Linked DNA regions of Homo sapiens. The protein of the gene in region 2 interacts with the protein of the main gene of each other region in a biochemical or structural test. Each region holds a gene or a part of one and is shown on either strand. Other genes may lie near its edges.

Evidence for each region.
Region 1: the proteins of ARF3 (region 2) and KIF23 form a complex in vitro, tested with the Homo sapiens proteins (one study listed by BioGRID).

Annotation. Positions count from the first base shown.
Region 1 is NC_000015.10:69,431,349-69,438,348, reverse strand, and holds part of KIF23 (kinesin-like protein KIF23), read right to left. Parts: intron 2,867-7,000; coding exon 2,787-2,866; intron 2,698-2,786; coding exon 2,578-2,697; intron 2,212-2,577; coding exon 2,088-2,211; intron 1,786-2,087; coding exon 1,627-1,785; intron 102-1,626; coding exon 1-101.
Region 2 is NC_000012.12:48,935,223-48,940,618, forward strand, and holds the end of ARF3 (ADP-ribosylation factor 3), read right to left. Parts: intron 4,886-5,396; coding exon 4,775-4,885; intron 4,558-4,774; coding exon 4,433-4,557; intron 3,887-4,432; coding exon 3,725-3,886; 3' UTR 517-3,724; downstream 1-516. Other genes in the region: peptidyl-prolyl cis-trans isomerase FKBP11, read right to left, coding at 432-516.

The DNA of each region.
Region 1 (7,000 bases), on a different chromosome or scaffold from region 2:
TGAGATCATCTTCTCCTTTTCATTTAGTTTCCCTTGCATGTGGTTTTCTTTACTTAAAACAGCATTGTCAAATTCTTGTAACAAAGCTTTAAAAGCATTAGCTGAAACAAAAACATACAGGTCAAGTTTTACACCAGTTCTAAAACAAACAATGATATCAACTTTTGCTAGCAGACACTAGATAAAATGTAGTTATTCAGCAAATCTCTGTGAGAATCAGTCTATAATGAGAAAACAAGTTTAGAGGGAAATCAGGAGCTTCATTCTCCAGTTGACAAGATATTCACAGAAGCTTTCTGTTAAATGCTGAAAAAATACTCAAGTCTTTCACTGTGCACTATAGCATTCTCTTCCCAATCCTTACAGGTACTTTGCTTCACAACAACAAACGCAAAAATAGAAACAACACTACTATTTGGGATTAATTAAACCTGAGCTGAAATCCTTGGAACATCACTTACTAGTTATGACTTAGGCGAGTTAATTAATATTTCTGGGCAAATTTCATTTCAGTATGGAAATTTAAATACCACTTTATCTCACAACTTTTTGGTAAAGATTCAAATGAATAATGATAATAAAAATAGTAGAGCCAGGCATGGTGGCTCACGTCTGTAATCCCAGCATGTTGGGAGGCCAAGGTGGGTGGATCACGATGTCAGGAGTTTGAGACCAGCCTGACCAACATGGTGAAACCCCGTCTCTACTAAAAATACAAAAATTAGCAGGGCGTGGTGGTGTGCACCTATAATCCCAGCTACTCAGGAGGCTGAGGCAGGAAAATCGCTTGAACCCAGGAGGCGGAGGTTGCAGTGAGCCGAGATTGCGCCATTGCACTCCAACTTGGGCAACAGAGCGAGACTCAGTCTCAAAAAAAAAAAAAAAAAAAAAAGTAGATACATTCATTCACTGAGATACATTCACTATGTACCAGAATTTACTGTTCTACAGGATTTTCATACTTTATCTTATTTATCTTCACAACATATCCTGAGGTAGAAACAATTACAATCCCCACTATGTAGACAGGGGAAACTAAAAAATATTTCTTTGTGTCTCCATCACTGTAAAAAACAAAAGAAAGAACACACGCTCACTTTTTTCTTTTTGACTTCCTTAGAATACAAAAAAGAGCTGTGGAAAAATGCCTTGTCATACTAATCAAACAATGCCTTGAGTGCTTCAAAGTTCTAAAGACACAATTTTCTTTAACTTCCTTAAATATGCAATCTACCATATAACTCAGATTCATTGAAAATACTTTCAATTTCAGAAGTTACAATTATTGCAAATTGGCTGGGAGTGGTGGCTCATGCCTGTAATCCCAGCACTTTAGGAGGCCGAGGCAGGCGGATCACTTGAGGTCAGGAGTTTGAGACCAGCCTGGCCTACATGGCGAAACCCCGTCTCTACTAACAGTACAAAAATTAGCCAGGCGTGGTGGCATGTGCCTGTAGTCCCAGCTACTCGGGAGACTAAGGCAGGAGAATCGCTTGAACCCAGGAGGCGGAGGTTGCAGTGAACCGAGATTGTGCCACTGCACTCCACCCTGGGGTACAGAGTGAAACTATGTCTCAAAAAAAAAAAATAATTAAATAAAATTATTTCAAATAGTTTTGCCCTTACATTGTTTGTTAAACTCATCAATCATCATTTGTCGTAAGTTATGTCGTTTCTCTAAGGCTTCAATCAGCCTTGGAAGTGTCTGCTCATCGTTGATATCCAAAATTTCGCATGATGGCAAAGGTGGAAAACTCTGCAAAACCACGTCAGTAACCAATGGTTCTGTATTGAATTATAGAAAATTACAAAAAGTTACATAGGAGAGAAAGAGCTTATTTAAACAAGTTTAACACTGCATACAGCCCCAGTGCAACTAACCATTGCAATTTCTTGAGCTGACATAAGTTTACTTACCTAAGAATCATAGTATGCAAAATAAGCTCATTTAAATTTTGTTCAAATTATTATGTGCTTGGTTCTTCAGAAGGTATGTAAACATTTCTCTTAAATGAAATAATTTTTTTTAAAAAAGAGAGAAACAGACAGACCAATGAGTGGACAAATGATACAACACCAAATCATACCATTTCCAACTGGACCTCGAGGCTGGTTTCTGTATCTCCTCCCAGGCGTTAAACCACATATTGCCTTGTCTACAGGTCTTGCTACTTCAACTTCTTGAGTCACTTCCGCAAATCTCATGACTTGCTAAAACACAAAACAAATGGAGTTTAAAAAAAAATAAGGATATCCAAGTCCCAGAAATTACTAAATGAAGCAAAGATTGCTTATTTTTATTTATTTGAGACAGTCTGTCACCAGGCTGGAGTGCAGTGGCATGAACACGACTCACTGCAGCTTCGACCTCCCAGGTGGGCCCAATTGATCGTCCCACCTCAGCTTCCCAACATGTTGGGATTATAAGCATAAGCCACCACACCAAGCCTAGTTTACTTCTACAATCAATGGTTCTCTATCCATTTTTAAAATATTCAAAATGTCATTCTGCTCATCCAAGTAACTGTTTTCCCGACAAAAACTCAAGACTTTATAGGACAAATACATTAAAATTACCAAGTTTTCTTCATAATCTTCAGCCTTGGGGTTCACACACACGATCATCCGCACTTTTCCTTCCCCATCAAAGTAGTTCTTGAACAGATGGGTTAACTTTGAATCTCGATATGGAACCATCTACAAAGACATTCATATCCAAATGTGTTACGCAAAAAAAATGCACACAAATGAAACTATACAAAAGAACAGAGAAGGCTGCTGCTTACCTTGTTAGTTCCATACATTTGGTTCTCTCTTAGGACATCCATACATGTTCTTAGCGTCATTAGTGACTGATTAATATTACCTGACAGAAAAAAATACATAGACGCCATTTCAGAACAACAGTATAGTAGCTAAAGTGTGTTCTGTTTGCCTATAAAATCTCAACTTCAAACAACTACTAGATAGAAATTATAAATAACAAATTTTTGTGGCTCAATATAAAGAGCTGTCTATGCATGGTCCAGGCTCTCTTTCAATAGCAGTATTTCTGGGAAGGTTAAACAGCCATCCTTCAGGGATTCTACCAACAGGATTTTCCACAAAATGCAACATTACAGTTAATGACTATAAGGTTTCTTCCAAATCCTAAATTCTCTGAAGGAATATCTTATATAGAGATGTTTAATATCCTCATATTAAAATATATTCTCTAGGCAATTGACAGGAATCATGGCGACCCCCAGGCCACCGTCCCGCTTCTGGGGGTGGGGGAAGAATATCGTCTGTGTGGGGAGGAACTATGGGGACCACACCAGGGAGATGCCAACGCGGTGTTGAGCGAGTCCGTGCTGTTTCTGAAGCTGTCCACGGCCTACACACCTGAGGGCTCGCCCATCCTCATGCCCGCGTACAGCTGCAACCTGCACCACGAGCTGGAGCTGGGCATGGTGATGGGCAAGCATGGCCGCGCAGCTATGGACTACGTGAGCAGCTATGCCCTGTGCCTGGACATTACTGCCAGGGACGTGCAGGATGAGTGCAAGAAGAAGGGGCTGCCTTGGACTCTGGCCAAGAGCTTTATGGCCTCCTGCCCAGTCAGCGCGTTCGTGCCCAAGGAGAAGATCCCTGATCCTCCCAATCTGAGGCTCTGGCTCAAGGTCAACGGCGAACTCAAGACAGGAGGGTGAGACATCCTCCATGACTTTTTCCATCCCCTACATCATCAACTATGTTTCTAAGATCATGACCTTGGAAGAAGGAGATGTTATCTTGACCAGGACAACAAAGGGAGTTGAACCAGTTAAAGAAAACTATGAGATCCAGGCTGGCATACACGGCGTGGTCAGTATGAGATTGAAGGTGGAAAGGCCAGAATATTGAGGCATCTCTTAACAAGTTTCAGGGAGAAGGGAGAAAGACAAAAGCAAGCAACGGCTATTAAATGTCGCAATCCTTTAATAAGAAACCAATTATTTAAAAAAAAGATTAGATTGCTGTGGCTCAACTCAAAGAAGATGGATTCTTCAAGAAAACATGAACTAGAAGGGATGGACCAGAAATTTAAAAAGCCAAAGTAAAGTACTTCTGGTGCTTCGGAAAAATTTTATCAAACCAAATGTTCTAGAGTTTTCTTTCATAAAACTGGATTGGAGAAGACTTTTCAGTGGGTTATCTCTAGGATGATCAGTCGTTCAAGACTTAAAAACTGCAGGGAAAACTGAAAGTTATGTTCCAGATCAGTGTTTCCCAAATTTCCTTGGATTTGGTCATCATCAGGAAGCATTTGTAAAAATAAAAATTTCCAAACTACTGTGGCCCATCCCAGAGCCACTAAATCAATTTGATGGGATTAATCTCCAGTGAAGCTGTGTTTACAGAGTACTCCAAATGATTCTTATCAGGGAAATGTGGAAAAACACTGCTGTACATAATCAATTAATTTAAATTTTTACTTAATAAGTGAACAATTAATGAAGATTTCACCTGTTTACTTAGGGTGTCTACCCTGACCCATCGATTCTGAGTTCAGGAGATGATTTTGAAATTATTGTTTTCCAAATAAGTGTGCTGCTACCTTTTATGTGGCTAAAAAATAAAAATAATAAAATAAAATAAAAAATAAATAAATAAAATATATTCTCTAAGGCAGCAGATCCCCAAACTTTCTGGCATCAGGGACCAGTTTCATGGAAGACAATTTTTACACAGATGGGTTGAGGCTTGAGGGGTGTGGTTTGGGATGAAATCATTCCAGCTCAGATAATCAGGCATTAGATTCTCATAAGAAGCATGCAAGAGTCTGAAGCTCTTGCTGCATCTAGAGGGGCTCTCCTGTTGTTTCTAACAGTCAAGTGTCTTCAGAATCAGCTAACTCTGTCCCCTCTACATCTCAGCAAGGATTTCTTAGGTGGCATACTTGTTACTTCTGACCACTCTTATTTGGATTTCTGAGCCAAGGCAAGTCTAACAGTCTAATCAAGCTTTCAAGAATGCAGCTCTCATCTGATTAGACCCCATAAGAATGAGTTCATTTTGAAACCTTGATTGAGGTCAGCTAACTCGATTATGCTTTCACCCTTGGCCTCCTTGGAGGATCTTGGATACACCTCCCAAAATACAGAACTCATCTGTACCTCTGTAATATTCCATGATTCATGATTTACGTTCCTTGACCCAAACTCCTAATGTTCTTTCTTCTTCCACTGTGCTCTCAGGAACTCATGTTATTAACAGATTTCCCTGCATCTTCAAATCTCTCACAAAATAATCCATTGATAGCTTTCCCTAGTGGTCAGGGGTTCTTAACCTGAGGTCTATATTGTCCGGGGGAACATGATGGGGTGTCTGCATACTTAGATGGAAAATAAATTACATTATTTACTTTTTACCAAACCAACTGGAATTCACTAGTTCCTTCAATTATGAATGCAGGCCAAAAACCACAGCATTAGTAGTACCTGTAATTGGTATCAATACAAATCACAGATATTTTTATAGCATGTTACAGTTTGTTGCTCATCAAGATATTTATGTTCATCATTACACTGCATTTATTTAATCAGACCTGCTGCTGTGTCTTTAAGGTATTAATAAAGAAGCACATAATTACTGTATGACAAACTTAAGAATACTTTTAAAACACATTTCAATGCAATTGGTTTCCTCTGTAATCCTCTCTGTGTTATACCTTCAGAAATACTATACCAGGAAGGGTCCATAGGCTTCACCCTACATCCATGGCACACAGCCCTGCAACCTAACCATTTATCTCTTGCTGCAGCCCTGTAGCCTTTTGGAGTAAAAAAAAAAAAGCTACTTGTTTTCTAAAGGCTGACATTCTACAAGTATGGTAAACAGAGGGAGAGGCTAGCAACATTTTCCTAGTTCCTCCTTATTGCCTTGAAATATTCCTCCTACATGCCAGTCCCTGGTTTATTTCGGTGTCCATGAGAACAACAATCATTCTCATATGCTGTAGTCACAGGGTCCCAATGTCCCAGCTCCAGTAAATCTTTATCTCTATTCCATTACAGCTGACAGCCCAAACCCTATCCCTCAGAAGTGTACCACTTCTAAAAACCTGGAGCCTCTGCCATATGCCCCAACTACAATCTCCTTTTCTCTCTCACTCCCTAACTCTATATTAACACTAACAGTCCTTTCTAGCTTTTCCCCAAAGCATCCAAAACTTCAAGTTTTTACTTTCTTCCCAAACCAGCTCTTGTCCCATCAAAGTTAATCCTTCCTCTTGGATCTAGATTCAGATTTTCCTGCCTCTTCCAGGATCTTGCTCCGCCAATAATCACCACTTTATTATGAACACCTAGTAGGTAAGCTGCACTGGGTAGACATTGACAGACAGCACACACACAGTCCACTCTCATGAAATTCAAATGATTCAGACAAATTGCAAGAGTCCTTTGGGCCAGGGTAGAGGCAGCTCTAAAGGCCCCATTTCTCACCACTGGACTTAAACATCATCTCTTCAGCATATGAATAAACTCAAGTCTTTACTATCTTCTAATGTACATATATAATGTGTGTGTGTATTTTTTCATCATTTCATAATCCCTCAAATCCCTTTTAGCTATCACCCTTCTCTGTCCATCCCAAGCTAATAATCAAGGGCTTGCTGTTCCTCAAGCTTCTGCTCTCAGCTTGTTCCTCTCCATTCGCTATGAATTATCTTATCTCACCCAATTGCTTCAATCATTTCTTTTTTTTTTTTTTGAGACGGAGTCTCGCTCTGTCGCCCAGGCTGGAGTGCAATGGCGCGATCTCGGCTCACTGCAAGCTCTGCTTCACGGGTTCACGCCATTCTCCTGCCTCAGGCTCCCGAGTAGCTGGGACTACAGGCGCCCACCACCACGCCCAGCTAATTTTTTTGTATTTTTAGTAGAGATGGGGTTTCACCCTGTTAGCCAGGATGGTCTCGATCCCCTGACCTCGTGATCCGCCTGCCTTGGCCTCCCAAAGTGCTGGGATTACAGGCGTG
Region 2 (5,396 bases):
GGTGGAAGCACTGGTCCTTGAGGGTGATGGCCTATTAATAATAGAAGTGCTGAAAAGGAAAATTGGCAGGGGAGGCAGCAGGGAAGTAACTGAATATAAATTATATGCTTCACACTGGTACTTGGGGCTCTCAAACTTATTATATGCCTAAATCCTATCCCTTTCCCACAAAAGCAGGCTGGGAAGACCTCTGTCCTCAAAGCTTAAGAAAATATTAAGATTGGGGAAGGCTTGCCTGGCTCACCCAGACCTCACCCACCCTAAAGGTAGCACCATCCCTTTCTTTGCCTGGAGCCAGACACTGGTAGCAGGGGAGGAACAGAATAGTGGTGGGAGTGCGATGGGAGGATGGAGGCTTTATGGAAAAGGTCTATTCCTCAAGACATTTGTGGGATCTCTGGATGAGGCTTGGCATCCTGACAATGAAAAACCACACGCCTGAAGTAGAGCTGATGCAGGGCCATCAGTTGTAAGAAGGATTAAGGTCATTACACTGCCCAGACGTTTATCCTTCATGTTTATTCACTGCCAAAGTCCAGAACTAGACTAGTGAGGGGGTCTCTGTTCAAACTAGAAGCACCTCATGTGCAAGGCTGAGGAGATCTGAGAGTAGAGGCACATGGGGCCCTCCAAGTTCAGGGCCCTTCAGCCAGTGAAGTCCATACAGTCTACCAACAGGTGAGAAATACAGCTGATTTCAGGTTTAAACCCTTTAGAACTAGAGGAGGAAAGTCACGAAGCCCTCACACTCTGATGCCCAATTCATTTGGGCTCCCCCGCCGCGGGGTATGATGGGAAGAAATAACCAGTGTGGAGTGGCACTAAGTTCCTCCATAACCTTACTCTCTATCAATCAAGTGTGCCTTTTACCCCTTTGCTGAAAGAAGGAGCACTATGGAGAGAGGGACCAGAAACAGGACTCCCCTCACCATGAAACTACTGTCCCACGGCTGCTGCACAGCAAAGATGAAGGTCGGCTCCAAAGCTGCATAAAACAAGTTTAATTTCCAACCAGGGTCACAGTCATCGCGTTATCCCACATTTTGAGCAAGGATAGAGAAGGTGAGTTATTAAACATATACAGTCTACATTCCAGAGGAGGAACTGCAGTTACCACTATAACACCACAGACAAACTTTGGGGTGGGGGGAGCGGGAGTCCTCAGGAAGCAGAAAGCTGGAATCAGGGAAAGCATAAAATTAAACCTACCAGAGAGGAGAGGAGAGGGAGTGGGCAGAAATGGAATGAAACACCCAATCCCAAAAGAGCTGTTAAGTGAATGGGAATGTAGAAAGGACCACCCCTGCCAAGGGCTTAGCAGCCAGGGATACTACCAAGATCACTTACTGCCCCCTGCTGGACAGATCTGGGGCAGCACCAAGGCAACCTCCTAACATTTCCAGCCCCAGATTGGTCCCTGGAGCCCCCAAAAAAACAAGGTGAGGGGTGAGGCCTGAAGTGAGGAAAACCTATTTAGGACTGACATCTAACTAGAGAAAGTCAGGGAATGAGGCAGGAGAAGAGGCAAAGTCCTCATGAACCACAAAGATAGAGTGGAAAATCCTAAGTAGGAAAAAATACATGGAAAAGGGCAAATGAGCAACAGCAGTGAATGAGTTGAGATTGAAAAGGAAAGAGTTCAAGGAAGGAGAGGCAATGGGGCAAGACAAAATAAATCTGAGGAAACAGAGCAAATAAAAAGTATGGAGGGAAGCATCTGTGGGGCCAGGGAAATGAATACATTTTTAAATGAAATAGAACCTCCAACACCCCCCCCACAACCACCACACACAAACACACCCACACCCATATACACACACACTCACACACACACACAGGCCTAGAGAGCAAGATACCTGCACACACCTGCTGCATCCTGGGTAACACATCACTAAGTAACTGGCACTGAGGGAGATACCCCTGGAACCTCTCTTTCACAGTTCAATCTTGGATGGGGTTACTAATATTGATCCATCTGCTATCAACAAAAGTGGCCAGGAAACCTGGCCCCATGGAGTGGGGCTTGGGACAGCCCTACTGGGAAGGGGTCCCTCAGCCATGCTGTGGGGGGCCCTGGGCCCTGACCTTAGCAGGTTATGGGCAGCTGTCTCGGAGCTCAGGGCGCAGCCAGCACACACAGGAGCCCACAGGACAGCCACGTCTTCACAGAAACTACAGAAGTCAGGACCCAGGCGAGGACCTCAGGAACAAGTGCCCCCTGCAGACAGAGAGACGCAGTAGCAACAGCTTCTGAACAACTACATAATAATGCGGGGAGAATCCTGAAGACCACTGCATCCCACAAGCACTGACAACCACTTCAGGATTTTATTTCCTCCACTCTAACCCCCAGATCCATTTATGAGAAGTGAGTGAGGATGGCAGGGGCATGGAGGGTGAAGGGACAGCAAGGATGGTCTGAGGGCCTGGAAACAATAGAAAATCTTCGTCCTTTAGCATATCCTGGACTAGAAAACAAGAGTTGGAGAAGAGGGGGGTTGATACTAAGGTCAGCTATGTCACCCCACTTCCCAGCTCCTCATTAGAATACCCAGTCAGCCCTGGTCAGGCCAGTAGGAGTACTAGGGTGAGAAAATTCTGACCAAGGACAGATGACCCATCCAACCCCTAAGATCAGAAGGGTGGTGGGGCACTGGAAGGCAGGAATGGGATTGGCCCATGCCTCACCTTCTCCTAATAACAAAAGAGAATGAAGATGGAAAACCTCAGGCCTTCGCCTCCCTTCCCCCAATGCCCTGGGTCCCTAACACACACCATGGACTTGCCATCCCCACCCCCCAGTCAAGCTCCAGAGGAACAGATCTGAAGATGGTGGGGAAGGATCAGTTGAACACTCTAAGCTGATAAGAGTGAGTGGGTTCCTCTCTCCTTCCCAACAGTAAGGCAGAGCAGAGTGGCATCTCCTTGGGAACAGTCATCTAGAGATAAATGCCATCCTCCAGCCCTAAGAAGGGTGGAGAGAAGAGTACAAGGAAAATGGTGGTGAAGAATCCATCATCTGTCCTATCATCCAGAAAAACCTACCTGCAGAGAGGAGGGTAACCAGTCAAAGACTGGGGCAGTCCGGCTTGACTAATGCCCTCCCACCTTCTTCCCTTAATCTCACCAACACGGAAGGGGCAGATGACAGGCTCCAGTGGGCAGTGTCCTGGCTGCAAGCCCTGAGCTTCACTCCACCCCCTCCCCGCTCCCCCCGGCCCCCACAAATATATCTCTCTATACATGTATATACAGGCGCACACATGCACGCAAACACAGAGAGGCCCGTGCAATTTCCATGTAAAACAGGGAGAGGGTGGCAAAGGAAAGGCAAACAGGGAGTAGAAGGGCTTGTGGGGACAGGGAAAGGACTCAGATGCCAAGAGGACAGCAACCACTGCCAAACAAAGAGAATACCCCACTCGACCTCCCGAAACCCAGAGGGTGAGAGAGAGAGGGGCCACCCCATGAAACCGTAACAACTTTTTGTTTTAAATCCAGTAAATTGGAATGACTCATCATCAGGACAGCAATTAGGGATTGGTCATATAGGTGGACAGGAAAAAGGAGGGGAGGCAGGGGAGGCAAGGCTCTTGCTGGGCATGTGGACATGATACCCAGGGCCCTGGCCACACTTGCATGGAGAGGAAGGGGTAGGACTGGGGCAGGGTGACAGTAGGTATGTCAGGGGTGGGTGGGGTGCTTTGTTAGGGCTGTCTGGCTTTCACTTCTTGTTTTTGAGCTGATTGGCCAGCCAGTCCAGGCCTTCGTACAGCCCGTCCCCGCTGGTGGCACAGGTGGCCTGAATGTACCAGTTACGGTGACGAAGGGAATGCAGGCCCAGCTTGTCTGTGATCTCAGCAGCGTTCATAGCATTAGGCAGATCCTGGAGCACGTGGGAGACACATAAAAAGAAGCCTCAGGATTTTTTAAAGGCTTCTAGAACACCCATCTACCAAAGAAATGTGTACCAGCACCTTCCCCTCCTCCTTTATTTTAGGAAACCCAGAACAAGATCCTAAGGAGCTACTTTGGATTTAGTCACCTAGAACTCAAGATCCAAAGCACTAGAGGTCACTGTACTGAAGAATTGGAAACCAAATACGAGGATGGTGGGGAAGCAAGAGACGTGATTCAGACTGACCAAAGAATCAGGTCTGTCTGACAGCAGGAGTGAGGCCAATTCTCCTAAAGTAGATAACAGGCAAGATGAAAGAAAGATTTGAGACAATTCCTGAGGACTGAAATGTTGCTAAATAAAGCTTGGGGTGGGGCACAAGAAGAGGGGCATAAAGAAGCCAAGTGCTCAGTTTCCCACGCTTCTAACATTGAGAGCATACTAAAAGGGTTAACCATATAATAGGCCCAAGAGCCAACAATTTCCACAGCCAGTTTGCTGTCTCCCAAATTCAGGGGTGGGAAGAAGTCTCACCTGTTTGTTTGCAAAGACAAGGAGTACAGCATCCCGGAGCTCGTCCTCCGCCAGCATTCTCATCAGCTCTTCCCGGGCCTCATTTACTCGCTCCCGATCATTGCTGTCGACCACAAATATCAACCCTAGGAAGGCAGAGCATGGGCTGCACTAAGATGACAGGTAACCCCCTCCCCCCAACCAAAAGACCACACCTGCCTGACACCCTCCAAATATTTGCTCCCTTTCCTCCCTTTCTTCTGCCCCCAGGAGCTGCAGCAGGGTAACAGTTGGCCACCCATTAACAAAGACAGCCACACTCTCTGCTCATACCCAACCAACCCACGCTAGGCCTGAGCATACCTTGGGTGTTCTGGAAGTAGTGTCTCCAGAGGGGTCGAATCTTGTCCTGGCCACCCACATCCCACACTGTAAAGCTGATGTTCTTATACTCCACTGTCTCCACATTGAACCCTTTGGAAAAAAAACAGGCAATGGCCACTTGGCCTCAAACACTAGCCCCGCAAACACCACCACAATGAGTTTGGTTCTGCTTTCCCCCAGTGGTGGCCATAACACCAACAATGGAACAAAAGCTAAGGCTTCCTCAGACCTGATAATCGTTAAGCTAGCAGCCTGAAGGCCAAAATGAAAACCTAAGAGAAGTCAAAGAGGATGAGGAAGTTGGTTGAGAGGTTCACAGTTGCCTGGGTAACGTGGGCCAACTTTCCTGACTTTTCCACTCAGTCTTTGGTGCTCCCTCCTACAAAATGACTCAGCCCTGCTCTGGTACTTTGGCTACCAGAGTCGGCCTCAGCTAAGATGTGGGGCCTGAGAGGCAGAGTGAAGAAAGGGAAGTAAGCTGGCATCCTGGAGCCCCAAAGGCAGAGCCAGCTGACAATGCTGACTGGAGCCCCCATCTACATAGCAAATGTAGGGAGACCTCCCTTCAGCAAACTGTAACCAAGATTGGCCACCAAAGATC